4 linked regions of the Homo sapiens genome follow. The protein of the gene in region 3 interacts with the protein of the main gene of each other region in a pairwise test. Each region holds a gene or a part of one and is shown on either strand. Other genes may lie near its edges.

The links.
Region 1: the proteins of HSD17B11 (region 3) and SLC67A1 interact in binary tests that used the Homo sapiens proteins (3 or more experiments, as listed by UniProt).
Region 2: the proteins of HSD17B11 (region 3) and HTATIP2 interact in binary tests that used the Homo sapiens proteins (3 or more experiments, as listed by UniProt).
Region 4: the proteins of HSD17B11 (region 3) and SLC25A46 interact in binary tests that used the Homo sapiens proteins (3 or more experiments, as listed by UniProt).

The regions. Positions count from the first base shown.
Region 1 is NC_000011.10:2,898,014-2,905,295, reverse strand, and holds the start of SLC67A1 (solute carrier family 67 member A1), read right to left. Parts: upstream 3,019-7,282; 5' UTR 2,932-3,018; exon of another isoform or gene 2,701-2,931; coding exon of another isoform or gene 2,578-2,700; intron 2,083-2,577; coding exon of another isoform or gene 1,951-2,082; coding exon 1,807-1,950; exon of another isoform or gene 1,721-1,806; intron 1-1,720. UniProt on the Homo sapiens protein: May act as a transporter of organic cations based on a proton efflux antiport mechanism. May play a role in the transport of chloroquine and quinidine-related compounds in kidney. Plays a role in the regulation of lipid metabolism.
Region 2 is NC_000011.10:20,359,031-20,366,723, reverse strand, and holds the start of HTATIP2 (protein HTATIP2), read right to left. Parts: upstream 3,011-7,693; 5' UTR 2,913-3,010; coding exon of another isoform or gene 2,812-2,912; 5' UTR 2,488-2,811; coding exon of another isoform or gene 2,487-2,487; coding exon 2,292-2,486; intron 1-2,291. UniProt on the Homo sapiens protein: Represses translation by preventing reactivation of elongation factor eEF1A. May also inhibit nuclear import by competing with nuclear import substrates for binding to a subset of nuclear transport receptors.
Region 3 is NC_000004.12:87,353,186-87,360,206, forward strand, and holds part of HSD17B11 (estradiol 17-beta-dehydrogenase 11 precursor), read right to left. Parts: intron 4,232-7,021; coding exon 4,094-4,231; intron 1-4,093. UniProt on the Homo sapiens protein: Can convert androstan-3-alpha,17-beta-diol (3-alpha-diol) to androsterone in vitro, suggesting that it may participate in androgen metabolism during steroidogenesis.
Region 4 is NC_000005.10:110,734,099-110,742,015, reverse strand, and holds the start of SLC25A46 (mitochondrial outer membrane protein SLC25A46), read right to left. Parts: upstream 3,010-7,917; 5' UTR 2,897-3,009; coding exon 2,614-2,896; intron 1-2,613. UniProt on the Homo sapiens protein: Transmembrane protein of the mitochondrial outer membrane that controls mitochondrial organization.

The sequences.
Region 1 (7,282 bases), on a different chromosome or scaffold from region 3:
GGCTGTGCTGGGTCCTTTGCCCCTCCTCCATCACCACTGCCAGTTCCCCCAGCTCATCCGACCTCCAGCCTCCCTGCCCTCTGGGGGAGCCCAGCCCATGACCGTCTCCATGCTGCAGGGCCCCAGAGCCTCTGTGCTGAACTGCCTTGTGTCCAGCTCCCTTCGGCTCTCCACTGGGGTCGAAAATCGTCTCAAACTCAACCCGTCCCCAACTGGGCTCCCATCTTTCCCTCTCCTCCTGTCCATGCCTCCTTCCTTATGGGCTCAGGCCCAGATCTTCAGTGCTCCCTGAGCCCTGCTTTCTCTCACACCCACTACAGTCCATTGACAACACATGCAAAATCCAGCCACCTCTCACCTCCTCCACAGCCATCACCAGCCCGGAGTTCTTTGAGCAGCAGGTGGGGTGTGGTCCCATTCTGGCCTCAACCGGTCCACTCTAGCCACTCTGCTCTCTCCACTGCCCCGGGGCCTCTCCTGCTTCCTTCCAGCCCTGCTCCAAGGTTGCCTTCTCTATGAGGAAGACCTCGCCCCCTTCCCACTGCAGCCCCTGTGCGTGTGGACCCCCAGCTCCGAGGGAGTGGGCTGTTGAGGATTTTTACACTCTGCAATATTTCAGGTTCTGACATCAGGGTCAGCTCCTGGGCACTCAGCACGGAGTTACTCCCCATGAGAGTCGATGGGTGGCTGAAGCCACTCCACCTGTGCTCTGTGCCCAGCTGTGGGAAGGGTTCTGACTTCTCATTCACTCTTCCCCGCACCAATCCTACAGGGAGGGACTGTTATTACCCATTTTATGATGAGAAAAGCAAGGCTCCTGCCCAGCCTTCCCCACGGGTAGGGAGGAGATTCAGGGCTTGGCCCCAGCCATTTAGCAGGAGTGGGCGGGGCGCCTGAGGCACGGCGGGGAGGGATCCTTAGGCTCACCCTCGGGCTGGGAGCCTCTGCCAGGCCCGGAATGGTGCCAAAGGCCCATCCCCACTCCCGCCTAGATGCCCAGGTCCAGGCTCTGAGGGCTGAGAGGAGGAGGGCAGCTGTCTGAGCCCACGCACGCCGGGCTTCCCAGAAGCAAACACAGGAAGGGCCGAGGTTGGCCCTGACTCTGCCTGAGCTTCTTGGTGATGTGAGACTTTGTTCCCAAGCCTCTCCAGACTTGGTGAATATAATTTAATCATTACTATTACAGCTTCCAGAGCCACACACTGTGGTATAGACTACTGAATGATACACTAAACTAACATGAATTTGCCAATGAAATGTTTCCGCATTTGGCAACAGAGATAATAAAATAAGACAGCATTCTATCTCTTGCAAGAAAAAGCTTGAGATCAATTTGCCGCCACAGATCATTTAGTGGACAACAAGGACCCAAGAAGATGGAGGGGAGAGATAGAAGCTGCGGGCAGGTGCAAGGAGAGCCTCTCTGAGGGGTGATCCGCCCAGAGCCACACCGGATTGAACAGCCCTTGGGGCAGGGACTCCAGAGGGCAAAGGCTGCCGGGTGAGAGGCAGGAGGAACAGCGCTAGGAAGGTTTGAGGAGGTGCTGCCCCCAGGAGGGAAGTGGGGTGGCTCCCCATGGCTTCTCCCGGGGCTGGCACTGAAGCTGGAGCACAGGATGTGCTGACGGGGGTCCAGAGGCAGAGTCCTTAACTTACTCAGCTTAAGCGTGGCATGAGTCCCAACTGGGAGGGGCCCTGGCAGCATGAAACCCCCACCCCCACTCTCTGCGACGGCCCAGATGGAGGGCAGGAGGAACAGCGGTTCAGCCCTGGCTGGGGCTGCAGGGGCTGGGGTGTGTTACTCACTGGCACGATGGAGAACTGCATGAAGAGGCAGGTAAGTTCTGTGGCGGCCAGCACGTAGGTAAGCAAGATGACCGAGGACCGGCCTAGAGCGCTCATCCTGCCGGGGGACCGGCCCTGGTCCCTGGGAGCCCGAGCTCCCTGCATCCTGGACAGGCGCAGCAGGGAGACCCAGGAGAGATCCAAGCAGGAGGCTGGCGGAGCAGGGGGCAAAAGTCCAGTTGATCCGGGCAGGGGTGCTGAGTCACTGGGTCCCAGGCAGCACCCGCCTGGCCTTGCCTGCAAGAGAGGACAGCACTGCAGGACCCCCTCCCCAGTGGAGCTCTCCTGCTACCTGGACCTTAGAGGACACATCAGGGGGTCCCCCTCCTCCACTTTTGACAGCTCTGGTCTCCAGGCACACAGCCTCCCGGGGAGGGGAGACAGGGACAAGCTGCTCCCCCCGACCCCTGCAGGTGGGCCAGGCTCAGTGCCTGGTTGCCTGACACAGGAATGTGCCATGCCCCACTTTTAGAGGGAGGCAGAGGCTCGGAGTGGTGGCTGAGTCCACCTCAAATCATCAGCGCCTTCTGTGGCCAGAGGGCTGATGTGGGTCCCTGTGCCTGGAGGCCCTCCGTAGGCCCACAGTGGCCCTGTCCCCAACACAGTGCAGCTCTCAGGGAAGGTCTACCTTCCCCTGTGGCCAGCAGCCAGAGCTCCAAGGGGCTTCTGGAATGGTCTTGCGTAGGGGAGACATAGCTCAGCCTTCCAGGCTCCCCAGTAGCTCTGCCTTACCTCCCACAGCGGAGTGCTGTCTGTCCCCACCCTTCCCCGCCCGGCCTCCAACTGGTGGGAACTGGATTTTGCGGCTGCAGAGGACTTCCCCAAATTTTGCCACATTAACAGCTGACTGCACATCTGAGCCCCGAGGTACCGAACCCAGGCTGGTGGGGTAGGGCGGGGAGACCCCTGAGGGTCCGGGAGCTGCGCCTGGCGCCCTCCCCCATCCCGGGATGCAGGGAGGCTGGGGGGAGCAGGGCAGCCGCAGCAGGCACGTCAGGGGCACCTCATTGGGCAGAGGTGCGACGCTGCGCCGGAGTTCGGGGTTCGGGGCTCAGAGGCCGCCCTCTCCGGAGTGTGCTCGAGTACCTGCCTTTGCAGGGGCGGGCTTGGGCACGGGTGCCGGTGGGGTGAGCGCTCCAGGGTGACCTAGACACCGGTCCTTCCGGGATGAGCCCCGGCCCCGCCCTTTCGGGAGATGACTTGCAACAGGGACCGCCCCTCTGGGTCTGAGTTCCAGCCCTCGCGCTTTGCAATCGCCAGTTCCGGGAGCGCCCGTGCCACGGTTTCTGCGCTCTCACTGGCCGAGCCCGCCCCTCCCCTCGAAGGACCCGCCCCTGCCCCGCCCACCAGCGGGCTCGCCCCGTGCCCGGCTTCGCCCGCCCCAGCCCCCTCCAGCTTGAATCCTGCCCGGTGCCCGGGCTGCTGGAGGTGGACACTCTGACCCTCAGGCAGCACCGGTGTCCACTTTGGGCCTGAGGAGGGGCAGTGTGGGCAGGGGATGGGACCGGGAGGTGGAGGGAAGGAGAGAATGGAGGGGAGGCAGGGGCGGGGAGAGAAAAGCGGAGGAATGGTGGTGAGGGGTTAGGGGAAGAAGTCAGGGGAGGTTGTAGAGGGTGTGGTGTAGCCTGGCCCTGCCAAAGGTCTGCACAGAGCCCCAGAAGAGTGACCAGGAGACAGCTCTGGGCCCCTCCTCACTTCCCTCCCCAGACCCGGAGGCTGCTAGGAGCAGTTGAGAGCCCACTTTTCCCCATTTCACCCTGCCTGCCACTTCCCCACCCTTGCAGGGGCCACCAGAGATGCCAGCACACAGGTAAACAAGCCTCATGCCGCCCTCCGCAGCAGGAGCCGCTGGAGCACACACACCCCACGCTGCGCACACTTGGCCCAAGCCCTGCCCTTGGCCTGGGCACCATTCTCCGTGCCCCTGACTGTCACTAAGTAGGGAGATGCTCATTCAGGACTCCTGCCCCACCTCCTCCCCAGGCAAGGGCTGGGCACAGGCTCAAATGTCAAAACCAGTGTCCCCCTGCCATGTGTCAATCATCGCTCCACAGAGCAGAAAACTGCAGGGGTGAGACAGGGTGGGACGGACATCGCAGAGGCGAGCGAGAGCCGGCCAAAGTCCTGGTGGGCAGGGGGGCCAGAGCCAGGTGGCCCAAGGCCGGCTGGCTAAGCCATTCCAAGTCACCGTGGGAGTGGTTCAGCAGCTACCCTTCGTTCAGCAGCTCAGATATGTTGGGCATCAGAAAACAATACCCCAAAATGAAGGCCTCAGAAGCAGCTTCGGAAGAAAAAGTGTTTCTCTGACCTTCTCTTGCTCTCCTGTCTCTCAGTGCCATTTTCCCCGAAGCTGGCCTTAGAAACTGGAATCCATTTTCCCCAGGGCAGGTCATAGAAATCAGAACCCCGCCTTTCCACACAGCCAGACATCAAACCTAAAAATATTGCTCTAACTTTCCCTCCACCTTTGTGTTTAGAAGCTGGCCATAAATTATCTGACCTCTCTTGTTTGACTGTAGGGCATAAGACCCCATTCCAGGAGGGTCCTGCTCCATGCCCAGAAGGAAGGAATGCTGCTCAGAAAGTTCAAGAAATCTAGACCAACAGCCCTCGCTGCGCTTCCCCTTGCGGTCCAGGAGCATTAGTGCAGGTCCCTTGGTTCATCTGTGTTCCCGCATGGATGTCCATACTTTGTTGAGCCTAAGCATCAGAAATGGCAATTTCCCCCATATCTTTTTTTTTTTTTTTTTTTTTTTTTGAGACGGAGTCTTGCTCTGTCACCCAGGCTGAAGTGCAGTGGCGCGATCTCGGCTCGCTGCAAGCTCCGCCTCCCGGGTTCACGCCATTCTCCTGCCTCAGCCTCCCGAGTAGCTGGGACTACAGGCGCCCGCCACAGCCCCCGCTAATTTTTTTGTATTTTTAGTAGAGACGGAGTTTCACCGTGTTAGCCAGGATGGTCTCGATCTCCTGACCTCGTGATCCGCCCCCCCTCGGCCTCCCAAAGTGCTGGGATTACAGGCGTGAGCCACCGCGCCCAGCCTGTTTCCCCCATATCTTTGGGTCTTTGTTCTGAAAACTCCCATTCACACACGTCAATCAATTTGGGGACCAAATGCCTTTTGTCCAATCAATCTGCCCTCTGTGAGGTGGTTTCTTAGCAAGCCCACGGGTGCAGTGTACCGCTCGAGGGGATTCCAGCCCAAAGAGTGCAAACGTGTTTGCATCTGGAGTGCGTGTCCCCAGATCCTCTGCCAAGCTCGTTTTCAAGAATAGTCACCACTGGCCGCCCTGGGGACTTGGGGAGAGTGCAGTCAAGCCGAGAGCCCAGGTCCAGCCAGAGTTTCCTGGAAGGACTGCACAGAAAGGCCGGCTGTGTAAGGTGGGGGTGGGTGACAGGAGTCTCAGAGTGTCTTAGATTTGGGACTCCTGGGGGAGGATGGGCATCCACATGAACCCTTACTCAATGGGGCAGGTGTGAGGGACTGTCCCCAACAGGTTCCAGACGCCTCCTGGGTTCCCTGGGGAGGGCTTAGAGGATGAAGCGGCAGGAGGAGATGGGATGAGTTACCAAACTGCCCAGAGGTGTGCGAGGGAGGCTGAGGGTCCTCTGGCGCTGAGGTGTGGTGGAGATGCTGGAAACTTACCACTGTCTTCCTCCAGGTGAAGCAGGGCCTCAGGTAGCCAGGGAACTGGTTGAGCAGAGGAAATCGGAGAGACCTTTTTTTTTGTCATGAACAGGCTCAGTGTGAATGGGGGAACTTCCTGGTTCTGAGGGAATGTGGGAAAATTGCCCTTTAGGCTGGGTGAAGAAGAAAGCAAGTGGAACCCTGGCACCCCTGGACTTCCTCCTCCAGAGGAAGCGGCTTTGGTTGTGGGCCAGCGAGCCTGTGCGTCCCCAGCCCCAGGGCATTCACCGCTTCAGAGAAGCAAGGCGACAGTTCTGCCGGATGAGAGGATCCAGGCTGACTGGAGGAAGGAAGGGCTTTGGCTCATCTGGGCTCAGGTTTGGGAGAGGTGGCTTCTCAGAGGAGGTGATGCCTCAGCCAGTCTTAAAGGTGAGCACGGATTGTTTGGGTATGGGAAGGGCATCCTGGCTGAGAGAATAGCATAGATAACGGCTTAGAGGTGAGCCCAGGCTTGGAGTGTTCAGGAAGCTGAGCCACTGGAAGGGGCTGGGACCAAGGGTGTACAGTGGGGTGACGGGGCAGAAAGTGAGTCTAGAGAGAGGGGTGACCCTGGGAGCGCTGGGCAGGGACACAGCCAGACGTGCACTGAGAAGTATTGCTCTGAACACTGCATCCTGGAGGCTGGGACCTCTGAGGGGTCTCCCGAATGAGAGGAGGCCAGCTTCAGAGCTGACCCCTGCCTACACCACTGCCTGGACATTTGAAATGGCTTTGGGCCTATCTTAACCCGACACACATTTATTAAGCACCTACTGTGTGCATGCCCCATGCCAGCTGTTTGGGACGTCAGCTGGCAAAGCTGACCGCCTGGTGGTAGCTTGCATCATTAGAGTGCATGTGCAGGCTTCGGGGAGGCACATGATCCCGGGTCACCACAATGCCTAAGGAAATGACTCACTGCCTATGAGCACTTGAGTTCTTCCTGTGTGTGCAGTGGACGCCGCTGCAGGGTTCTGAGCCCCTTCTGTTCTCCAAGGAGCCTCTGGCTGATGTGCTGATGAGGGGTTGAGGGGAGGGGCAGTGCAGGAGGTCTCTGCTGTGGTCCAGATGAGAGGTGGTGTGGACTTGGATGGGGCATGGGGGGATTTGAGGGGCAGGTTTGGAACCTCCCTGGAAGGAGGCCTGACAGGCTTCCTGCTGGTTGGGGCCTGGGCTGAGAGGGCCAACTGAGGGGGCCTTCAGGTGCGGCTGGGGGCGACATGAGGGGAGGCAACCCTGCAGGTCCATCCACGGGAGGGGCCTGTGGGCCAGCAGAGAGGGCAGAGTGTGCAGTGTGCAGTTTGCGGCATGTGGTCTGAGCTGGACGTGAGGGTGTCATTGACACTCATGTCCTGTTTAGAGCTCCCACCCTGGATGAGATGACCAGGAGTGGATGGGGCTAGAGAGGAGAGGGGCCAAGGGCCAAGGCTGGACCCCAGCATGAGGAGGAGGTGCCCAGGGTTCTGACCAGGGAAAGGGAGGGAAAAATAAAGGAGCTGGGTCTGGAGAGAGAGGCAGGTAAGCGAGTGAAGGCCTGGGAGCTTCCCTGGGGCCGAGAGCTGGAGTCACTGGTGGCTTTGGCAAGAGCGTCATGAGCATGGGGGCTGACCCTCGGGATTCAAGCAGGAGGAATGGGCTGGACACCCTTCTGAAGGGTTTTGCACCAAAAGGGGGCTGAGAAATGGGACTGTGGCTGGAGGGGAAGTGGGATGAAGAGAGAGAACCTTTGTTTACAATTTTAAGATTTAAAAGAGTGATGCTGCAGAGAACGG
Region 2 (7,693 bases), on a different chromosome or scaffold from region 3:
AAATGGGGGTGATAATCTTTCCTTCAGTCCAATCCATGAACCATTTGCATTATAATTAGTCAGGGAGTGCTTAATAAAAAGGCATATTCCTACATCCCACACCAATAGTTCTGAATCAGAATCTGCACTTTTAACAAGCACCCACCTTAATTCTCATGCACACAGAAGTTTACGAACCTCCATCTAACCTTATCAGTTTGCTGTATAACTTAAAAAAGAAAGCATGATAAATTCCTATCATCCAAGAACTCCGATAAAATGTTGGTTTCCATCCTTACTGTCAACTCTGAAAAGAATTTTTCTGGCACTGCCTATGACACTAAAGAAAAATAGGGTTTCACTGTTAATCCCAGCACTTTGGGAGGCTGAGGTGGGTGGATCACGAGGTCAGGAGATCGAGACCATCCTGGCTAACATGGTGAAACCCCGTCTCTACTAAAAATGCAAAAAAAAAATTAGCCGGTTGTGGTGGTAGGCACCTGTAGTTGCAGCTACTCGGGAGGCTGAGGCAGGAGAATGGCGTGAACCCAGGAAGCGGAGCTTGCAGTGAGCTGAGATCGCACCACTGCACTCCAGACTGGGCGACAGAGTGAGACTCCATCTCAAAAAAAAAAAAAAAAAAAAGAAAAGAAAAGAAAAGAAAAAGAAAAATAGGGTTTCACAAAGTACCTAGTCAAACAGATGTGCCACCAAAACTCGACACTCAAAACACAGATTTCAATTTGTTTCTTTTCTTTTTTTTTTTTTTTTTTTGAGACAGAGTCTCGCTCTGTCACCCAGGCTGGAGTGCAGTGGCACAATTTCTGCTCACTGCAACCTCCATCTCCTGGGTTCAAGTGATTCTCGCACCTCCGCCTCCTGAGTAGCTGAGATTACAGGCGTGCACCACCACGCCCAGCTAATTTCTGTATTTTTAGTAGAGACAGGGTTTCACCATGTTGGCCAGGCTGGTCTGGAACTCTTGACCTCAAGAGATCCCCTGCCTCGGACTCCCAAAGCTCTGGGATTACAGGCATGAGCCACCACGCCCAGCCTTCAGTTTCAGCTTCTAATTACCATGAATATCTGACACAGCCCATGAAACCGGTGAGAACACATCTGCCTCAGCCTGAGGAAAGATGTCTGTTTTAAATAAACAAGACTTGATGGACCAAAGGCATTCACACCATGACCTGAACACAGACCTGCGAGAATCAAGAACATTTATTTGCAAGATGGCTTGTTATTTGAAATGTTCTTTCTATGAAACCTGTGGGGCCAAATTCTGTAGCTGTGGTGTCTTGAGATCACACTATGTTAATTTGTTGCAGTTCACAGATAATTCCCTTTAAATAAAGAACAGAATCTCCAAGAAACTCAGGCTTCTGATATTTAGGGGGTCATGACAAGACAGAAGTCTGGTATATCATTCCTATAATCATAAAAGTGTAACTTAGGCTGGGCGCGGTGGCTCACGCCTGTAATCGCAGCACTTTGGGAGGCTGAAGCGGGAGCATCATCTGAGGTCAAGAGTTCGAGACCAGCCTGGCCAACATGGTGAAACCTTGTCTCGTCTCTACTAAAAATACAAAAGTTAGCCAGGAGTGGTGACGCACGCCTGTAGTTCCAGTTACTCGGGAGGCTGAGGCAGAAGAATCGCTTGAACCTGAAAGGCAGAGGTTGCACTGAGCCGAGATCGTGCCACTGCACTCCAGCCTGGGGGACAGAGTGAGACTCCGTCTCAGAAAAAAAAAAAAAAAAACCTTTAACTTAGAGTGAAGGGAATATCCGATTTACAGACACAAGCCTGGGAAGTCAGGCAGGGCAAATTCTTGTAAGTGAATAATCCCACCTTTCACTGCCATAGACCTATCTCACTCTGCAAAGCAGTTTCAGAATCCCTGACAATATTAGTGTGAAGTGCGCAGGTTGACAAAATCAGCAAAGTGGCTGAGAAAATTCTCAAGGTCACCAGGGCTGCCTCTAGAATACAGCTTGTATGACCCTGAAAACAGTGCTCTTCTGTCTCACCAGCCCCCACCCCCATTACAACCCAGACCCAGCTTTATAGGGTTGCAGATGGAGAGAAGGGCTTTGCCCAAGACCACACAATGAGCGGGAGGGAGGCACACCTGGGCTACAATCCAGGAGTCAGACTTCTGGGAGGGACTCTCACAGACCAATCTTGGCCAAGTTTTGATGGCCTCTCACTACCCCCACCACTGGCAGGGCAGTATTCAGCCTTTAGGCATGAAATATGTTCACCTCGCAGAATCCTGGGGGTCCATTTGAGTCCCAGCTGAAATACCCACCACATTTTTATAAGCTTCCTCGTCGAAGGTGAGCTTCCTCCGGCCAATGAGCGTGACTTTGGAAAACAGGCCCTGCTCCAGGATTTCCTTTAAGAGCACTCTGCCGGTTTCTCCGCTGGCGCCCAAAATAAAGACGGATTTATTCTGCATCCTGAAGTCTTCCCGAAGCTTCGACAGGGCTTCTGTTTCGGCCATGCTGGGGAAATAACATCGACAGATGCCGGTCTTAGGGTGTCAGGGGACTGCCAGTCCTTATCCCGAGGAACAAGGGCTGTTTATCTGTTAGGGAGGAGGATATTGTTCTCCGCAGTCCGGGCTCTGGGGAAAGTGCTGAGTCACGTGCGGGGCGCGGCTCCCCGGCCATCGCCCGCACCTGAGCCAGCAGACCCATCGGAAGGGGCCCGAGCTGGAGGGTGCGCCCAGGTGCCACAAGCTGCTGGCATCACTGGGCATACCCCACGGTATCCCCGGCCCGGCCAGGAGACCTGGCCCAGCTCGGTCCCATACGCGGAGGGGTTACCTGGGGCCAGCCCCCGGCCCCGGGTCCTCACGACGCAGCAGGAGCAGGGCGGCCGCCAGAGCAGCCGCCGCCGCCGCGCTCAGCGCCGCAGGCCCGGCCATCAGAGCATCCCACCTTCCCTGGTCGGACCGGGGGGGTTGGAGGCGACGGAGACAGCGCCTACCCGGCTTGGTCTTCCGGGTGGCCTCGCGGCGACGCTGCCTCGCCCCGCCCACAGGGGCGGGACCTGGAGACGAACTCCTGGCACCCTCACAGGCGCGGGGAAGGTGACCCCGAGAGCACGTGCGCGGAGCCGCGACCCTTCCTAAGTTTGGAATCTGCAAGACCCTCTTCCCGCGTTTTCCCTCACCTGCTGGGCTCAGCTCACCCAGGCGCCAGCTAGTAGACTTGCCAGACTTGATCTTCAATGGTCCCCCCAGCTGGAATGTCAATTGTATATTGGCCATCATCTCAAATTCACCAAGTCAAAAACTTAACCCTGCCTACCCAACCACCCCAAACAGGAATAAAACAAACCTATTCCTAGCCTCTCTTGGGTGTCACTGTCCCTACATAAACATACACACACACACGCACACACACACACACCTCCTTCTACCCTGTCAAGTCAGAAATCAGGATTCCTTTGATTCCTTTCTTTTCTAGCCTTTCCACACTACAGACTTATCAAGTCCTGTTATCCCATCTGCCTTACAAATATTTCTCCCATGTAATTCAAGCTCGCATCATATCTCCCCAGAATAAATGGTCTACCTGCCCAGGTCCTGGCCTAATTCATCACCTAGATGGTTGAACCCGGGTGACCTTCCACACCTGTGATTCAGTCTTCCTAGCCCAGATCAGTGGTTTGGGACACAGGTATCTACACTGGGCCTGTCCTGGATCTTGGAAGTCCTGAACAGAGGTTAGAATGACAAGCAGAAATCTGAATAATTTCAGATTGTTCAGGTTTTGTTGGGAACATTGGTCATTTGGGGGCCCCACCTCCCATCTAGAAGCCAATGAAACACATTGCCTCTTCCATCTCCATGGGAGTTATTATATGTAGGCTTTGCCTAGGCTCAGCAAGCCAGAGGCTCACGCATAGGTTTTCAGTTTTGGAGGAGTAATGAAAAGATGCAGTGAAGGCCTGAGATATATGTGGGTTGGTTGGGGCAAGGGTATAGGATTATGGCATCATATGATCCACCAGCCATCTGATGGTCTGATCTTGTCTTAAATTCCTGCCTGTTTTCAGAGACTGTTGTGAATACAGTACTTCCTGTTATTCTTCTGATAAATTCCTGTGCTGTATAAGCTTACCAGATATATTCTGTTGTTTGCAATAAAAAAGCTTGATTAATATAGAGCAGTGTGGTTCATTCCCCACTGGCCTGTCACAGTGCCTGGACTCTTCCCTTTGAGTTCCTAAAGGTTTTCTACAAGAATGCAATGTTAAACCTTGTCAGCAAACACTGTCCTAGTAATTCATTTATCAAATCTGTCACAGAAATTATTCATTGTACCCTGTCTATTCTTCCCCTTTGTTTAAAATTGTGGCATAATTAATATACAATAAAATGTACAGAACCTAAAGGTTCTGTTCCATGATTTTAGGAGATTGTATATACACCTAAATAACCACCACCAAAAACAAGATATAGAGCATGTCTGCCATCCCTGAAAGTGCCTTCATTCCCTTCTTGCAATCTCTCCCCACTCCAGAGGTAATCACTTTCTGGTCACTATCAACATAGATTAGTTTTGCCTGTTGTAGAATTCTATTTAAGAGTACAGCATGTACTCTTTTGTGTCCCAGGTTTTTGGCTTAACACATATTTTAGTATTTATTCTTGTTTGTAGGCCTGCATTATGATTTCTATGGGCCCTAAGCACTTCATGAGCCCCTTCATTTTATGTACACACACTATATAATCAAAAATTATGTCTTATGACTATGTTGCTATAAAGATGAATATGACAAACTATTTATATAATCAAAAATTATGTCTTATGACTATGTTGCTATAAAGATGAATATGACAATTTCTTTCACCTAAAACATTTTCTTCCACCTAAAAGTTTATTTTCACAGGCCCCAGAACTGTGCCTACTGTGCCAAATGAGTAAATCAGCCCTGGTTGTTTCATGTATCAGGAATTCATTCCTTTTTATTGCTGAGTAGCCTTCCAGTATTCCAGTATGAATATCCCACAACATGTTTAAATATTCTCCTGTTGATGGACATTTGGTTTGTTTCTACCTTTTGGCTAATTATGAATAAGGCTCCTATGAACATTATTGGACCAGTCTTTCTGCAGTAACATGTTTTCATTACTCTTGGACATATATATACACACACACACACACACATATAATGTTTTATATATATATATAATGTGTATATATATATAAAATGTGTATATATATAATGTGTGTATATATAATGTGTATATATAATGTGTATATATATAATGTGTGTGTATATATAATGTGTGTATATATATAAAATGTGTATATATATATATAAAATGTGTATATATATATAAGATGTGTGTGTGTGTGTGTATATATATATATATATATATATATATATATATATATATATATATAATATAATGACCCTGCAGGCAATCAGACCTTTTGGTTGTCTTCCCTTGTCCCCTAAAAATTGCTGTTATTCTGTTCTTTTTCAAGGTGCACTGATTTCATATTGTTCAAACACACGTTTTACAATCAATTTGTACAGTTAATACAGTTATCATAGTGGTCCTGAGGTGACGTATATCCTCAGCTTACGAAGATAACAGGATTAAGAGATTAAAGTAAAGACAGGCATAAGAAATTATAAAAGTATTATTTGGGAACCGATAAGTGTCCATGAAATCTTCACAATTTATGTTCCTCTGCCGGAGCTCCAGGCAGTCCCTCCATTCGGGGTCCCTGACTTCCCACAACACACTTGCAAGCTAGCACGAGCACGTGACAGTGATTTAGCCAACGAGAAGCAAGCAGAGGTAATATGTGCACATTTGAATCACATCTTTATAAGGAAGTTACCTTCTTTCCTTTCACTTTCCCTTTCCCTTCACTTTCCCTTTCCCCCTTTGCTTAGGCCAGAATGTGAATGTACTGGTAAACCAGCTCTGACCATGAGGAGAAAGACACTCTCTAGAGGATAGCAGGGCAAGGAGCCCTTGGATGACTTCATAGAACAGAGCCGCCTGCCCACCCTGGACTGCCGGCACACCTCTGGGGAGTGAGAGAAAAATCAACTTCTGTCATGTTGGAGCCACTGTAATTTTGTTACAGCAGCTTAGCCAGCATTTTGCCTAATGTAAGATTCTTTTAGTCAATCTTGTCAATGGATATTTACTGATTATCTAATGCAAGCCAGATACTGTGCTAGGCACAATAGATTTTTCCAAGGTGAATCAGGGACACCAGCTAAATTCACTCTCATCTTGAAGGCAAGTCATAAATACTTGGGAAGCTAAATAAAGTTAAGCAACATTATAAAACATCCCCCAAACTTTCACAGGGTGGCACATGCTGAAGGCCAAATGAGCATACAGAAATAGAAGGAAACTCAGAGAAAAACAAGTCCATGCCTTTCCTTCTCTGACAGCTGGAACCATGTCATCCAAGTGCTGAGATAATGTGACAAGACCTAGGCTCCTAGAGCAACCGGACCACAAAAATTCAGGGCAAAGGGGAAGGGGAAAGCATAGGGAAGGAGGGAAAGGGGACATAAAGAAACGGAGCTGGCATGGAAAGATCCTTGGCCAGAGACCTGCCTGCCACGTTCAGGTTTGCCTTTGATGAAGTCTCTTCATATATCTTGGCCTCCATTTCCCTATCTGTAAGATGGGAACTGTTTCATTACATTCGCTTTGCTCCAAGGAACAAACTGACTCATGGCGAGTAAAGATGGTGAATATTGTAATATTGTAAGGCTATAAATCATGTATAAGAGAGACAGAATCTCAGAGAAATCTCAAAACAGGATCTGCTGTAGGATGGGGCCTTAGGGAGACTGGAACTGTATTTAGGTCAGATTTAGAGTCCTCAGGATCAGGGATCCATGCATCTTCACTTCAGAGCTATATTTTTAGTTATACCTTCATTAAGACTCTGTTTCACGTGTTTGAAGCCCCAAACTCAAAATGTTTTGAGGAAAAAAAAAAAGGAAATGTCCTGGCTCATGCAACTAAAGAATCAGTGTATATAATAGTCTTGGCATGACCAGAATCAGCCAGTCAGCCAATGGGGCCAGGACCCAGTCCCTCTGCCAACCATGGCTCTATTTCCCTTCACGTCGGCCTTACTCTCAGACCCTGCAAGATGACCCAAAGGCTGTGCTCTTGCTCATACTCTTCATTGTCTAAATTCAACCAGAAGCTAGAGGGAACTTATATTGTGCAGACCAGTTTTCTTCAGGGCATACAATAAGGTAGATAAATGAGGAGAATGGATGATTGAAGCTATCAAGTACATCCCCCTAGATTCAAGTCCAGTAGAAAGAGCATAACTGTAAGCAGAAGTCCCCAGCTGTATCTCCTTAGTTCTGATTAAACCTTATGATTGTCACTGTGGCTCTGGGAATGAAGCCGGGTGGGGCTATCTCTTCCCACATGTCTGGGAGTAGGGGAGGAAGTAAGGTCCCCAAGGAAAGTAGAGGTCACTATTATAGAAAGAAAACAGAACGGATGTTAAATAGCATCTAAAGTGGCTATACTTGTTCCCCATTTATCTCATTTATTTGTAAATATGAATGCTAGATAATTTTTTTTTTTTTTTAACAAATGAGAGCTTTAAATAACTGTAGCATGACTAAGATATCTGGTTGGGCACATAAGAGGTTGGATTTGGTAAAGGTAGGTGTCTGAAAGAAAGTATTGTA
Region 3 (7,021 bases):
TCCTCGGGCACACATATTTTCACTTTTGGATAATTATCTCCCTCAGGTAGATTCATAAAGGGGGATTACTGGGCCAAAGGGTATATAACTTGTAATTTAATTTCTCTAAACCTCAGATCTCTCTCATCTACTGAAGAGGGACTAATAACATCTCCCCAAAAGTATTGTTGTGAGGTTTAAGAAAATGACATTTTATTTGGTGTCTGAAATGTAAACAGGTATTTAACGAGGAACATGTTCTCTCTTCTAATTAGAAGTAATAAGTTTCTATATTAAAACCAACTTCATCTTTGGGGTCTACTTTAGTACCAGCTTAGCCTCAAAGAGGTTCATATGTCAGGACCAATCTTTAGGCCCTTCCTTAGCCAGGTTTATATTCAGCCTAGAATCATCTTAGCCTCTTTTCACACTTTTCCTCCAGAGTGCAAATCAGTGCAGCATTTCTGGAGAGGAGTTTGGCAATATGTAGGAATTAATGGCACTAGTAAGTTTTGTCAGGAGAGGGCGCTGGAGCCCACGTTAAGGTCAGCTCTGTGCGGCCTTGTAGGGGGGGCAAGGTTAAAAAATTCAATTATAACTTTTGAAAATAGGATGTCTGTTTTTAACTACTGAAAGACAGTATGACTTTAAAACTTGACTCAAATATGTTATTTTAGTATCCACATACTGAAAAAGAAATTGAGGAAACTGGCAAGTTTTATCTTCAACATCTGCTTTCAGTTTTAGTGAAGCTTATCCTCACTACTTTCATTCCTCAGATCCATTTCCCAACCTGAAAAACATATCTGTCCCTTCTCTTCTCTCTTCAGACTCCAATTAGGGTTCTCTTGTTTAATACTGATAAATTTAAACATTGACCTCTAAAATATACACTCTTACTTTTGTTTTCTAACAAAAATTGTGTATTAAAAATAGATTTTAAAGACTGTTTGATAGATTCTTGGGGGCTTGAGATCTTTGGACAGCTCCCAAATTTCTGTCTAACGTTGGCTTTCTGTTCTGCTTCCCTGTGGGATGACTTAAATTAAGTGTGTTTAAAATAGAACCTGGCGGCCGTGGATCAGCTGTCAAGAGTTCGAGACCAGCCTGACCAATATGATGAAACTCCGTCTCCACTAAAAAAATAATAATAATAATAAAATAGAACTGTTAGGCCAGGCATGGTGACTCATGCCTGTAATCCCAGCACTTTGAGAGGCTGAAGTTGGGAGAATGACTTGAGCCCAGGAGTTCAATTGAGTTCAAGGAGCCCTTGAGCCCAGCCTGTGCAACATAGGGAGACCCTGTCTCTACAAAAAATTTAGAAATTAGCCAGGTGTGGGGACACATGCCTGTATGGTCCCAGGGACTGGGGAGGCTGATGTGGGAGAATAGGTTGAGCCCAGGAGGTCAAGGCTGCAGCGAGCTGTGATTGTGCCACTGCATCCAGCCTGGGTGACAGAGCGAATCCTTGTCTCAAAAAAAATAAAAAAAATAAAAAAAGGAAAAAAATTAGAATCTTCAATTTTACCTTCAAATTAACCCTTCAAGTGGCCACACTGAATATTTTTCATTAATTTTAAATACATTTTCAACAAAGGCAGCTGAATTGGGGGAAATATGGGGAAGTTTGAGGGGGCAGAATAAAACTTAAAAATTGAATCTTGGCTGGATGCAATGACTCATGCTTATAATCTTGGCACTTTGGGAGGTGAGGTGGAGGTGGGAGAATTGCTCAAGGCCAATTTGAGACCAGCCTGGGCAAACAGCAAAATCCTGGCTCTCAAAAAAAAAAAAAAAAAAAAAAATTAGCTGGGCATGATGGCACACACACTGTAGTCCTACTCAGGAGGCTGAGGTGGAGGGTTGCTTGAGCCCAGTTCAAGGTTACAGTGAGCCATGATCACACCACTGCACTTCAGCCTAAATGAGACCCTGTCTGAAAAACAAAACAAAACCAAGCAAAATTGAATCTCATCATTACAATAAAATTGAGAATCCAAAAGTCTATCCAAGTAAGCATGTGAACTTATAATATGAATTTAATATCAGTGAGGAAAATGATGTATTATTTAATAAATAGTGCAGAAAACTCATTAACTATTTGGAAAAAACTATACTGTGACCTTACTTCTTAAATCAAAATAAATTTGGGTGGGGCAATGATTTAAATATGAAAAATGCAACCATAAAATATATGCTAGAAAAAATATGGGTAAATATTTTCAAAAACTTGGAATGAGAAAGACCTTTCTAAACACCTCACAGAACCTAAAGTCCATGAGAAAAAAATCCCTAAGAAAATTTTAATGTAAAACTAAATGAAAATAGGCTTAAAAGCAAACAAAAAACAACTGGGGAAAAAAAAAACATATGCAACAGATGTGATATATAAAGGGGTTTCTCAAATGTATGAAGAATTGTTTCTTATGTATTAATTAAAAATCTCTAGAGCTCAGCTGGGCATGGTGGCTCATGCCTGTAATCCCAGCACTTTGGGAGGCCAAGGTGGGCGGATCACTTGAGGCCTGGAGTTTGAGAACAGCCTGGCCAACGTGGCGAAACCCCATCTCTATTAAAAATACGGAAATTAGTTGGGCGTGGTCGTGCGTGCCTGTAATCTCAGATACTCGGGAGGCTGAGGCACAAGAGTCGCTTGAACCTGGGAGGTGGAGGTTGCAGTGAGCCGAGATTGCGCCACTGCACTCCAGCCTGGGCAACAGAGTGAAACCCTGTCTCAAAAAAAACAAAAAACAAACAAAGAAACAAACAAAAACAACTCTAGAGCTCAATAGCAAAAAGTGAGCTGATGCCATGAAAATAGGCAATTCATAAAAGGAAGTGCAATGTCCAAAAATCATATGCGAACATGAATGTAGCTAGTCATCAGGGTAAAAACAAAGATGATTCTTCGCGTACTGGATTGGCGGTGATTAAAAGAGTCACAGAAGGCAGACTGATGAAGAAGTAGAGAGTAAGTTGCTCTCCCTGCACTGTGGGTAGGAGTGCAAATCAGTGGAGCATTTCTGGAGAGGAGTTTGGCAATATGTAGGAATTTTTACAAGTTATATACCCTTTGGCCCAGTAATCCCCCTTTATGAATCTACCTGAGGGAGATAATTATCCAAAAGTGAAAATATGTGTGCCCGAGGATGCTTATTGCTGATTTGCTGTTAAAAATCCAGAACACTAAAAACAACCCTAAAATCATCACTAGGAGATGCTATTGCTCCCAATAATCAATACAATTTATTATAATGCTCTGTACTTTATTAGATGTCTGTAACATAATGCTGAGGGAAGTATGCAGTATACTTGCTGCTTCCAGGACCCCATGTGTAACATACGCCAGTTATAGAAAATTCAGAGAAGTCTAGAAGGATGTTTATCAAAATTTTGAGAGTGGTTTCCACTCAATAGAGGGTTTTAAGGAAATTAAAAAAGAAACTTTTCGATTTGTATTTTTCATTAACATTGGAATTTAAACAAATAAGTATGCATCATGTTTACAAAGACATTAAAGCTATTTCTAAAGAGAGAAAACATTAAAAATTATCTTCAAATTAATCCTTTATAATTTTATTTTTTAACCAAGTAAAGAGTATGATCTGGTACTCCTTTCGGAGGCTAATCTCTAGATTACCTCCAAGGGAAGTGTTTTTCACATGTGGTCTTGGGTTATCTCTATCAGAATCACCTATGATAATCACCTTTTTTAAATGTAGAGTTCCAGGCTCCCTTCCCTGCCACTACCCTACCCCAACCAAACCCAGTAAGTCAACATATCTGAGGGTGAAGCCCCAACATAGTTCCCAAGCACACCTGGTGACATGTATGCATATTTAAGCCTGTGAATCATTACTCAGGAGAAGAAAAAAGGAAGAGTTAGCAAGTTTACCAATGTCATTCATATTTACTTTTTTAGTCACGCTCCCTTGCTTTCTCTCTTTTTGGCTTTCCACCTGTTTTCCCACAATCTGCAGAAACTGAAATCAAAATGAACTAAGAGCTTTAACTATCAGGTGTTTTCAGGATTAAAACATTTAGGAAAACCCACAGAATGGCTGGTATTCATAGCAACCACCAATCCTTTTGTCTCAATTTCTCAACTTACCTTGTACTTGGATTTTTGATGAAGCCAGTGTTTACGAAATTAGGACACAGACATGTTGTTTTGACTCCAGTTATTTGTAAGGCAGCCAGTTCATCTGTCAAAGTTTTATGAAATCCAACAGCAGCAAACTTGCTTGAACTGAAAATAGAGAGTTTACAAAATAATTCAAGAATTCTGAAATGTCTGCCTGTTTTCCTCAGTTCAGCATGGTCCTCTGCAGAGCAATGTGGGCATTCCCTGAGTCTCAGGCCCCAGCCCAGAGCTACTGCATCAGAGCCCACATCTTACAAGATTCTCAGGTAAATCTGTAGGCACATTAAGGTCCAAGAAGCCCTGACATAGAAGATTTACTGCATCTTAGCATCACTTACGGAATAAGAACATTTCCTTAAAAAGCCTTTTAAAGAAAATTAGTAGAGTATTTGTTTTTGTTGTTGTTCCACAAAATTCAGTGTCACTATAAGCTGTTCCTTATTTACTTTAAGATGTCCATAGAATTTGCTGAAAACTTTTCCTGGATAAATCCTATTCTTCCTTTAAGTCACAGCTTCACTTCCTCAAAGAGGCCTTTCCTAACCCCCAGTCTAAATTATTTTCTCATTATATAGTAATTTTCAGTTTTCTATGATAGTATCTATCTCAGATTTGTAACTGAACATTCATTAGAGAAATTTTTTTTTTTTTTTTTTTTTTTTTTTTTTGAGACAGAGTCTTGCTCTGTCACCCAGGCTGGAGTGCGGTGGTGCGATCTCGGCTCACTGCAAGCTCCGCCTCCCGGGTTCCCGCCATTCTCCTGCCTCAGCCTCCGCAGTAGCTGGGACTACAGGCGCCCGCCACCATGCTCGGCTAATTTTTTGTATTTTTAGTAGAGACGGGTTTTCACCATGTTAGCCAGGATGGTCTCGATTTCCTGACCTCGTGATCTGCCCACCTCGGCCTCCCAAAGTGCTGGCATTACAGGCGTGAGCCACCACGCCCAGCTGAGATTAAATTTTTTAAAACATCTGTTTCCCACACCTTTCCTATAAGCTCCATGACTGTTTTGGTCACCAGTGAATCTCCAGGGCCCAGCACAGTGCTTGGCTCTTAGGTGCTCAATGAATATTTGTCAAATGAATGAATCACAATGCAAAGCGTTTATTTTAACAGCTCTTTCATTTGGAAGTAGTAGTGAAATTACTTATTCTAAATGGACATTACTTTCTCAGGTTTTTTTAATTTAAAAAGGGCTTTATTGAGATATAAATTCATATGTCACACAAAGCATTCACTTAATGTACACAATTAAATGGTTTTTGATATATAATTAACTTAAAAGTTGTGGTATAATATATATCATGTAAAACATGTCATTTTAACCATTTTTAAGTGTGCAATTCAGTGGCAATAATTATCAGATAATCTTTTATTCTGTTAAATCTGTATGAATTAGCAATTACACAAAGTAGCTATACATTCTGGCCAGTTAATCTATGCTTTGGAAGACAGAAAGCTGTGGAAATTTTTTAAAAAATTTTAAAAAAAATTTCTTACCTTTTTAAAAAAAGTTTAGGCACTTATTGAAGCTGATATGGTTTGGCTGTGTCCCCACCCAAATCTCATCAACAATTGTAATCCGAATTGTAATCCCCACATGTTGAGGGAGGGCACTGGTGGGAGGTGACTGGATCGTGGGGGCAGTTTTCCCCATGCTGTTCTCGTGATAGTGGGGGAGTTCTCACAAGATCTGATGGTTTTTTAGGTGTTTGGCAGTTCGTCTCTTGCTCTTACTCTCTCTCGCTGTCTCTCTCCTGCTGCCATTTAAGACATGCCTGCTTCCCCTTCCTCTGTAATTGTAAGTTTCCTGAGGCCTCCCCAGCCACGCAGAACTGTGAGTCAATTGAACCTCTTTCCTTTATAAATTGGCCAGTCTTGGGCAGTTATTTATAGCAGGGTGAGAGGGGACTAATACAGAAGGCTTAAAAGAAAGATTGTTAGATTAAATTATATGAGATTAAAAGCTTCTGTATACTGAAAAACAACATAAATAAAAATCAGATCTAAAATAGATTACTAAGTGCTAGACATTGCCCTCAGTTATTCTGATGCATTTTGGAGTTTTTTGGGGAGTCTTTATCTGTCACTTAGGCTGGAGTGCAGTGATGCAATCATAGCTCACTTCAACCTAGGAACTTCTGTGCTCAAGCAATCCTATCACCTCAGCCTCCCAAGTAGCTGGGACTACAGGCATGTGCCACAACACTTGAATAATTATTTTACTTTATTGTAGAGATGTGGGTCTCGCTACGTTGCATAGGCTGGTTTCAAACTCCTGGGGTTAAGTCATACTTTTGCCTCAGTCTCTCACGGCGCTGGGATTATAAGTGTGAGCCACAGTACCTGGCCTATTCTAAATAATTATTTTGTTTAATCTTCATAATACCCCTATAAAATATATTAAGATCCTCATTTACCAAAGAGGAAACTGAGGTAAAGATGGGTTATCAAACTTGCCTGAAGATACAAAACAAAGTGGCAGAATCAGGTTTTACGTGTGGGTAGTAAACCAGGTTTATATATGATATATTCTAAACTTTATTAACTCCAAGCAAATTAAGAGGCAAGTGACAAACTGGTAAAGCATTTGCAACATATAAGACAAGGATAAGGTTAATATATGGCAACTTTTATAAAGGAATAAGACAATACTCTAATAGATAAATGGCTAAAGGGCATTCATGGAAAAATCATAATATAAAAATGCCAGTAGATGTAGGCATATAAAAATGATTTACTTTAGGAATAATTCATATAAAAGCAAAGTAAAACAAGACGGAATTCTTGCCTAGCAGTAATTATAAGGACAGAAATTTTCATCTGAGTTTTTTTCAATGTACAGATATTTCACCTCATATAATTGAATCTAGCAATCTTTTCTTTTTAAGGCTT
Region 4 (7,917 bases), on a different chromosome or scaffold from region 3:
AAGATTACTGATAACCAATTACTGACAATTTAGGTTTAGTCTCAAAACAATTTTAAAAAATTTATTTTATTAACCTGCTGTTCATTTAAACCTCAAAGTCAAATTCTGATAGGGGCCAGGTAAATAATTTAAATGAATGAAGGACTCTGCTGGGGTCTGTGGCAAATTGCAAGGTGTAGAGTGTTTAAAGCACAATTACGCTTTCACTCCAATTCATTGTTGCCACATTAGAGTGTGGGCCCAGGGTTTTGAAGTTGTAATTTTTTCAAAAAAAGATATTCTCATTTTATATAAAAGCTTCCAATTTTAAAGTCCTGGACAACTATTTCAAAAACTGTTAACACATTGTCTTGGCCTAATGAAACAAATATCCGGACAGAACCTAAGGGCTACCAGTTTTCAGCTTCTGATTCCAATCAAATAAAAAATTTTCCATGGTTGGCCGCAGCTGATATTCCACCTGCGACTTTACCTCTTATGCTGTAAAACTAGTTATTCACTGTTACTGACGGAGAGCACTTTATTAAACCAATAACTACAAGTAAAGCACCTCTAAATTATTAACTTGAAAGGGTACTTAGGGATAACCAAAATGGGTAAATACAGCTCTCCCCCATCTCTTCAAGTTTTAAATAGTTTGAGGCTAGCTGTTTAATTAATTGGAGTAGGTTACTGGATACCTAAATGCTACTACAGATGGTATGTCTGTTATGTTACTGGAAAAGTTCACAGCTGGGAACATTCCTATGCATATGTCAAAAGAGAAAAGCCTTTCTTCTTGACTAAACTCAAAGTCATAGTGGTGAACTATTACAACCCCAGGGGACCAGACATCAAATTCTAACTATAATACAATATTCACAAGTTACAATTCTTTCTCTCCTCTTCTCTTTCAAGTGAAGCAACTGCCCTCACTATTCCCTTTCAATCAGAACAAGGCCACCTAAGCATGTTCCTGGGAAATTACGCAGTTTACCCTAGAAAAATGTATAAGCTAAATAGAAAGCTTCTTTTACCCACCTACGGTACTTTTACCTTAGATTTTACCTTTTTTTGTTTGTTTTGAGACGGAGTCTCGCTCTGTCGCCCAGGCTGGAGTGCAGTGACGCGATCTCGGCTCACTGCAAGCTCCGCCTCCCGGGTTCACGCCATTCTCCTGCCTCAGCCTCCCGAGTAGCTGGGACTACAGGCATCCGCCACCACGCCCGGCTAATTTTTTCTATTTTTTAGTGGAGACGGGGTTTCATCGTGTTAGCCAGGATGGTCTCGATCTCCTGACCTCGTGATCCGCCCGCCTTGGCCTCCCAAAGTGCTAGGATTACAGGCGTGAGCCACCACGCCCGGCCTTACCCATTTTGTATGTATAGATCATCCCCAAATAGCAACAGAAAATGCTACTAGCATTTTCTGGAAGGTGTTAGGAAGGTTTAATCTTGTTTACTGTGTAAGTCTCTTAGGTGTCTATCTTTGTTGCAAAATTAACATTCACCCACCTGTTAAGGCTGCAAAATAAACCCCTGCTTGTGTCAAGGAACTCCTCCTCATTGTAACCACCAAAGCATAACTTTAAACCGGGAAGAGTCAAAAAGCTAATTGTATGACAATTAGCTAGGTAAGTCATCTATCTTTCTTCACATCCTCATTTACTCACTAGACATTCGTTAGTCTGTTCTTCTTAGTTAAATATTATTGTACTTCCAAGTCAAAGTCGAGGAAATAAGAATAAAGCTGATTTCTACAATAAATTTAATATTAATACCATTAATCTATTATTCTAACAATTCCAGAAGAATAGAAAGAGGTAGCCATTATTCACATTTTATGAATAAAAAAGGATGTTGAAAATATCTACATCATGCAGTGTTGCAGCTTTTCTGACATCCCATGGAGAATAATTATGTCATGATTCCGAAGTCCTATCTTGAAATTGTATCAGTGTTTCTAACTTTTATATGTAGTTTTTAGGTCAGCAGAAGGAAAGCAGAAAGGAAAATTATAGGAAGGAAACTTTCTAGACTGGGGATCTGAAAAGCAGACAAAACTCCTGTGTTCAAAAAGGAAAAGGAAGGAAACTTTTTTTTTTTAGCCTATGTGTCCCATACAGGATTCTTCTACACATCTTAAAGATGAGAAAACTGAGGGCTCACAGAGGTTAAGTTGTTCAGATTACGAGTGGCACAACCAAGTTTGAACCCAAGTATGCTTATGCTGAAAGGCTTCTCTTTTCAGAACACAAAACTACAAGTAAACACATTAATTAATTAATTAAATCAAGAAAATAGAGCTGCCAAAGTGAATCAGGGAACAGTTAATAATCCAATCTCCTTTTTAACTCAGACCATCAGTTGAGACACCAAAACCTCTAAAAATTCCTGCTATGCACCCCATAGCTAAGGCAGATGTCTTTTTTGGAGTTGATCCAGGAGAATTCGTTTGTGAGGAAGAGGAGGCCAGCCTCAGGGGCAGAGGACCAAAGGAGGGCAAAGGGTGTGGCGCGCGATAGGATGAGAAGGAATAGGAGGCGGGATCCTCTGCGCCGCTTCCGGGGTCTGCAGGCCGCAAGCCGCGGCCCCAGTAACCCCTCATCCCTGTGTCGGTCCCCATGCTTCTCACCACTGCTCTGCCCCTGCACACTGCCGCCGCCGCCACTGGAAAAGGGTTCCTCCGTGGGGCCTTCGTACGGGGTGGAGGTGGTGGGCACGCCGTAGGGCGGGCTCTTCTCGCCCCAGTGCAGGTTGCGGCTGCCGGGGATATCTGGGGGAGTCGTCACCCAGTGGCCCAGGTCCGACCCGGTGCTGAAGGACCTTGCAGGGAAGGCGCCGCCAAAGCCCTGCTCGTCCCGGGCACCACCCCGGTAGCCCAAGCCATCAAATCCGTCCGGGCGCCGCGGATGCATCGCAGCGGGGGCAGGATGACGCGAGCCCGCCCGGAGCCCACCACCACCGGGGCCACCACGACCTAAGCACACACAGCTTCCCGTCGGCCGCCGCCGCGTCAGGGGTAAATTCTGACAACCGGAAGTCACGTTGGAAACCCGGAAGTCTTCGGAGCACGTGATTATAGCCTCTTCCGGCAACCATTAAAGGGCACGGTTGCTAGGGAGACGCGGCGGTAACCTGGACCTTAAAAGTTTGTTGTCGTTAGGGAATAGGTGGGAATATGGTTGTGGGATTAATGAAACACAGTACCAAAGAGATTCCAGAAAGAGAACTGGTGTAGGAATAGGGCCTGCATGGGAGGAGTTCAAAGATGCTTCTTGGAGGGAGCCGATAACCCGCGGGTGGAGCCTACCCGGTGAGATCCCGGCCAGAAATACCCCATGTCACAGCTACGCCCCAGATCTCAGTGTTTTCTCACGGGCCTGGTGCCTCGCCTGCTCCGAGGAAGCTAGTAGAGGTTGGAGTTGTGGAGGGTTAATAACGTTCCACCTAGCTTTGTCTCCCGCACTTGGGGTTTTGGATCAAATCTATTGAGAGATATGGTACCGCCCAGTGAACGCGAAAGTACTGTGGACCACCAGAGCAAGCATTTTAAAAGTTGAAGTGCACGTCGGGGGTGAAAGAAACCCACGTACTCGAATACTGTCCTCCTGGAGTTAGAAATTACGCGTTTTCCTTTTCTAAGGCTGTAAAGAAACTATAGTTTTCTGTCGTATTTTTTTCTGATGTGTCTAAATCACTCAGGGTATTGAAATCCCAGTTATATCGTTCAAAATTGGGACCTCTAATTGAATAACTGAGAGGACTACTGTAGAGCGTCCCCTACTACCTGTTTTCATTAGCTCCACGGGCTCTTGGGCCAGGCTCCCTCCCCAGATCTGAGGAAGACTTCCATGGTTTCATCCTATGTTCCTTCAACTCGTTGGAAGCCCAGGATTCCTAGAGCTTTTCCAAGAGAACTCTGACGTGCAGTTCTCGATCTTCCAGATGCGAACCTTGATTGAGAGTGATAATCAACTTTGTTTTGATTGAACTGACATTTTTTTCTGTGGTTTTATCACTTTTTATTTTTTATGGGTGTATAGTAGGTGTATATATTTATGGGTTACATGAGATATTTTGATAGCGTACATTAAAATGTATAATTAACATTTTTAAATAACGAATTGACATTCTTAAATTTGATTGCGATGCAGCTTGGGCAAAGGTGTTGAGTCTCTTGACTGTATAAAATTTAAATGTCCATATAGTAAATTTTAAAATATATAGTAATCACAATTGAAAGGCAAATCACAAACAGAAAAATGACATTTTAACATGGTTTAAACAATGGAACAGTAGCTTTAATGTACAAAGAGTTCATACCAATGAATAAAGGCAAATCAGAAATATGAGCAAAGGACATGTAGAGGCAATTCATACAAAAAAAGGAAGTGTAAATAGATAATATCATATAAAAAGTCCTTTACTAATTGAAAAAAGGTAAATCTTAATTATCTTTCACGTATTAAGGTGTTTAAAAGGGAAAATGCACATTGTCTTTCCAGGTGAGAAGAAAGTAGCTTTCATTAATTTCTGAAGTGATATAAAACATAACTTTCTGATGGAGAGCAGTTTGGCACTATGTATCAAAAACTGTAAAAATAACCATATTTTTTGACTCCAAAATCTTAGAAAACAAATATAGGGGTTTTTTACATGTTTCTGGCATGGATAACATACATATGTTTATGGCATGCTTGCTCATAATAGGAAAAAAATAAGCAGGAATGCAAATATCAAATAATTATTATTGATTAATAATTTATTATTTAAAGTGTATATCCATACAGTTGTTTAACAAAAATATATTTATTAAGCACCTATCTCGTGTCAGATACTATTTTAAGCAATAAGGATAGAATGATAAATAAGCCAGACAAGGTGCTTGCATTGTTAGAACTGACATTCTAGTTTAGGGAGACAAAGAACAGATAAATATATCCTGTCAAATATAGTGCAATGTCAAATAATGACATGATTGTATTAAAAAAGCCTAAGTGAGCAATAAAGGAAGCTTTTTTTTTTTTTTTTTAGAATAAGGAAGTCCTCTCTGAAGAAGTGACCTTTGAGCAGAGAACTGAATGAAGTGAGGGAGTGAGCCATTTGTGAATATGTGGGAGAAGTTTTCCAGGCAGAGCTGAGCAAGAGAAACGCCCCGATAGCAAACTAGGTAGCCAGTGAGAAAGGGTGAAAGTGATAGGAAATGAGAGCTGAAAGGAGGCTAGGTGCCAGATCTTGCAAAGCCTTGTCGGTGGTGAACAAAATTTAGGTTTTTTGAGAGTAGAGGAGTAATGTGACTGTATTGATGTTTTATAGGAATCCACCTGGCTCTGTATGGGGAAGAGTAAAGGCTTCCACCTACTAAAGGCAAGCAGCTGAGGCAAAAAATAGTAATAATTTCATCTCGAGTGATAGTGTAATGGAGATGAGAAGGGTTTAGAGTGAAGATGTTTATAGATTACATTAGAGATGAGTATTAAATGACATGAAAATATTCATGTTCAATTTAAAACATGTACAGTATGAACTTACCTTTTAAAAATTCTACTAAAGATACACAATAGAAGAATGTGCTAAAATGATAGTATTATGTCTGAGCACGGGCTTGCATAGTTTCACTTTTTATTTAATTGCTCTAAAAACTTAGCTTTTTTTTGTAAGAAGAAAAATTATTTTAGAAAAAAATTAGAGCAAATTTGGTTATGGGCAGACACAGCAATAAAGATCTTTCTAGATTACTAAATCTGTTCATATCATTTAATCAGTAGTCTCTAGAGCACTATGAAAGCTCTATCATCCTGTATTTCTCCAAAATATTTCTAAAATAATTATGCTGAAATCGTCCAGAGTTTATTGCTTCAAACTAGTTTGAGAAACTCATAACACAGGAATTAAAACATGAATTTATAAAGTGGCCAATGCATTTTATGAAAACAACAGAATGTTTGTATTAGTTTCTATTGTGGCACAATGAATTACCCCCATAACAAATTGGGCAGCTTAAAACAACATTTAATATCTCATAGTTTCTGTAATTTAAAAATTTCAGAGTGGCTTCGCTGGATAGTTCTGCCTTAGGTTTCCCATGAGGTTCTAGTTAAGACTTCTACTTGGAATGCAGTCATTTTAGACATGACTGAGTTTGATTAGGGCTGGAGGATCCCCTTCTAAGATCTCTTACTCAGACAGCTATAGAAAGAATGTCTTTATTTCTTGCTGATTGCTGTTAATGAGGTTTCAATTCCTTGCCACATGAAGTTCATAGAACATCTTGAATGTCCTTATGACTTAACAGCTGGGAGACAGACAGCAAGGGGGAAACACAATGTCGTTTATGACCTAATTACACCTCATCACTTCTGCCATGTTCTATTTTTTTGGAAGAGAGTCACTAAGTCCAACCCTGCACTTAAAGGGGAAGAGGATTTGACTCTATCTTTTAAAGGGAGGATTATCAAACAATAGCATTTATATCATTAAAATGACTAAAATATTAAATCACTATATAACAATTAATGGGTGGAGGATATTATTAGGCACCAAAACTAATAATAAGGAAATTTTTAGCCCAAATATTAACAGAATAATATAGTTTTTTACTTTGTTCCTTAGTAAATAAAGGATTAATTTTCCTTGAAAATAATATGATAGAAATAGTATAACCACCCCCCAACGGGCTTAATACATATTTTCGAAAGTCCAGTCATTATTATTGTTGAGTTGAAATACAAATGAAAAGTTGCAGATTGTTTCAACAGTTTTCAAGAGTTGGCACAGAATGCTATGGTCCTACCAAACAAAAGTGCCTGTGCAGAGCAAGCAAGTCATTCATTTATGTTAACATTTTGCTCAAAAATTCTGATGCTAAATAAATTCAGCTCACAGGATAAAATAAAAATCACCTATATTTTTTATTCAAGAATTCACTCAGCAACATATATTAAGCACCTACTATGTGTAAACCACTGTATTGGGTACTGTGATGCAACTATACACTATTTTATTTATATCTTTTTTAGAGACAGGGCATCACTGTGTTGCCAAGGCTGGTCTTGAACTGGCTCAAGCAATCTGCCCACCTCGGTCTCCCAAAGTGCTGGGATTACAGGAGTGAGCCACTGCGCCCTGCCTGGTAAGTATTTTAAAAGGTGAAATTTAGTAATATTTTAAATATTTTACATGTAAAATAACTTGAAATAAGCAATTTTAAAAATATCTTTCAAACAATAGAGGTGTTTTTGTTTTCTTTTGTTTTTGTAAAATGATGTGATATAACAATCCACTATGGTGCATTTGATCCTGATTACATTGTTAGGGAAGTTAGGCAAAGCATATTTAACATCTACACACTTAATGGGACACACACAGTAAATGGAAGCAACCAAGAATATTTTAAATTGTGAATTGGGTATAAATTTTCTTAATTGCCGAGTTTATTCTTTTTCTACTTGATAGGCTATAGCATTTATGTTCAGAAGATGGTGATTCCCGAATTATTGGACTTAATTTTTCATCCCTCTACCATAGTATTATACTGTATGTCCATACCCTTGTCATAGCCTCATGATGGGCAGAGTGGACTTTCCTGCCCTTTGGGTAGTTGGTAGAGTGATATCCTTGGGCAGAAAGGTGTTAGTTAGCAGGTGTGACCCAAACAGAGGCTTTGCTCAGTTGGCTTGCCCGCTTGGGCTTCTGCCATAACCATGAGAAGCACCTCCTGAATAACCACTACCCCTTCACTCTGGGCTCCAGAAGGAGATATTTGGAGCAGACCTGAACCCAGCTGGAATTCTGGGGACAATCCCAGGTGAACCCAGCCAACATCACCAAAATCTAGCCAACCTGCACGCAGAGGAGTGAATGAGAAAAATAAATACTTGTATTTTAAACCACTAAGATTATTTTGGTGATAGGTGACTAACATGATGCTTATGCA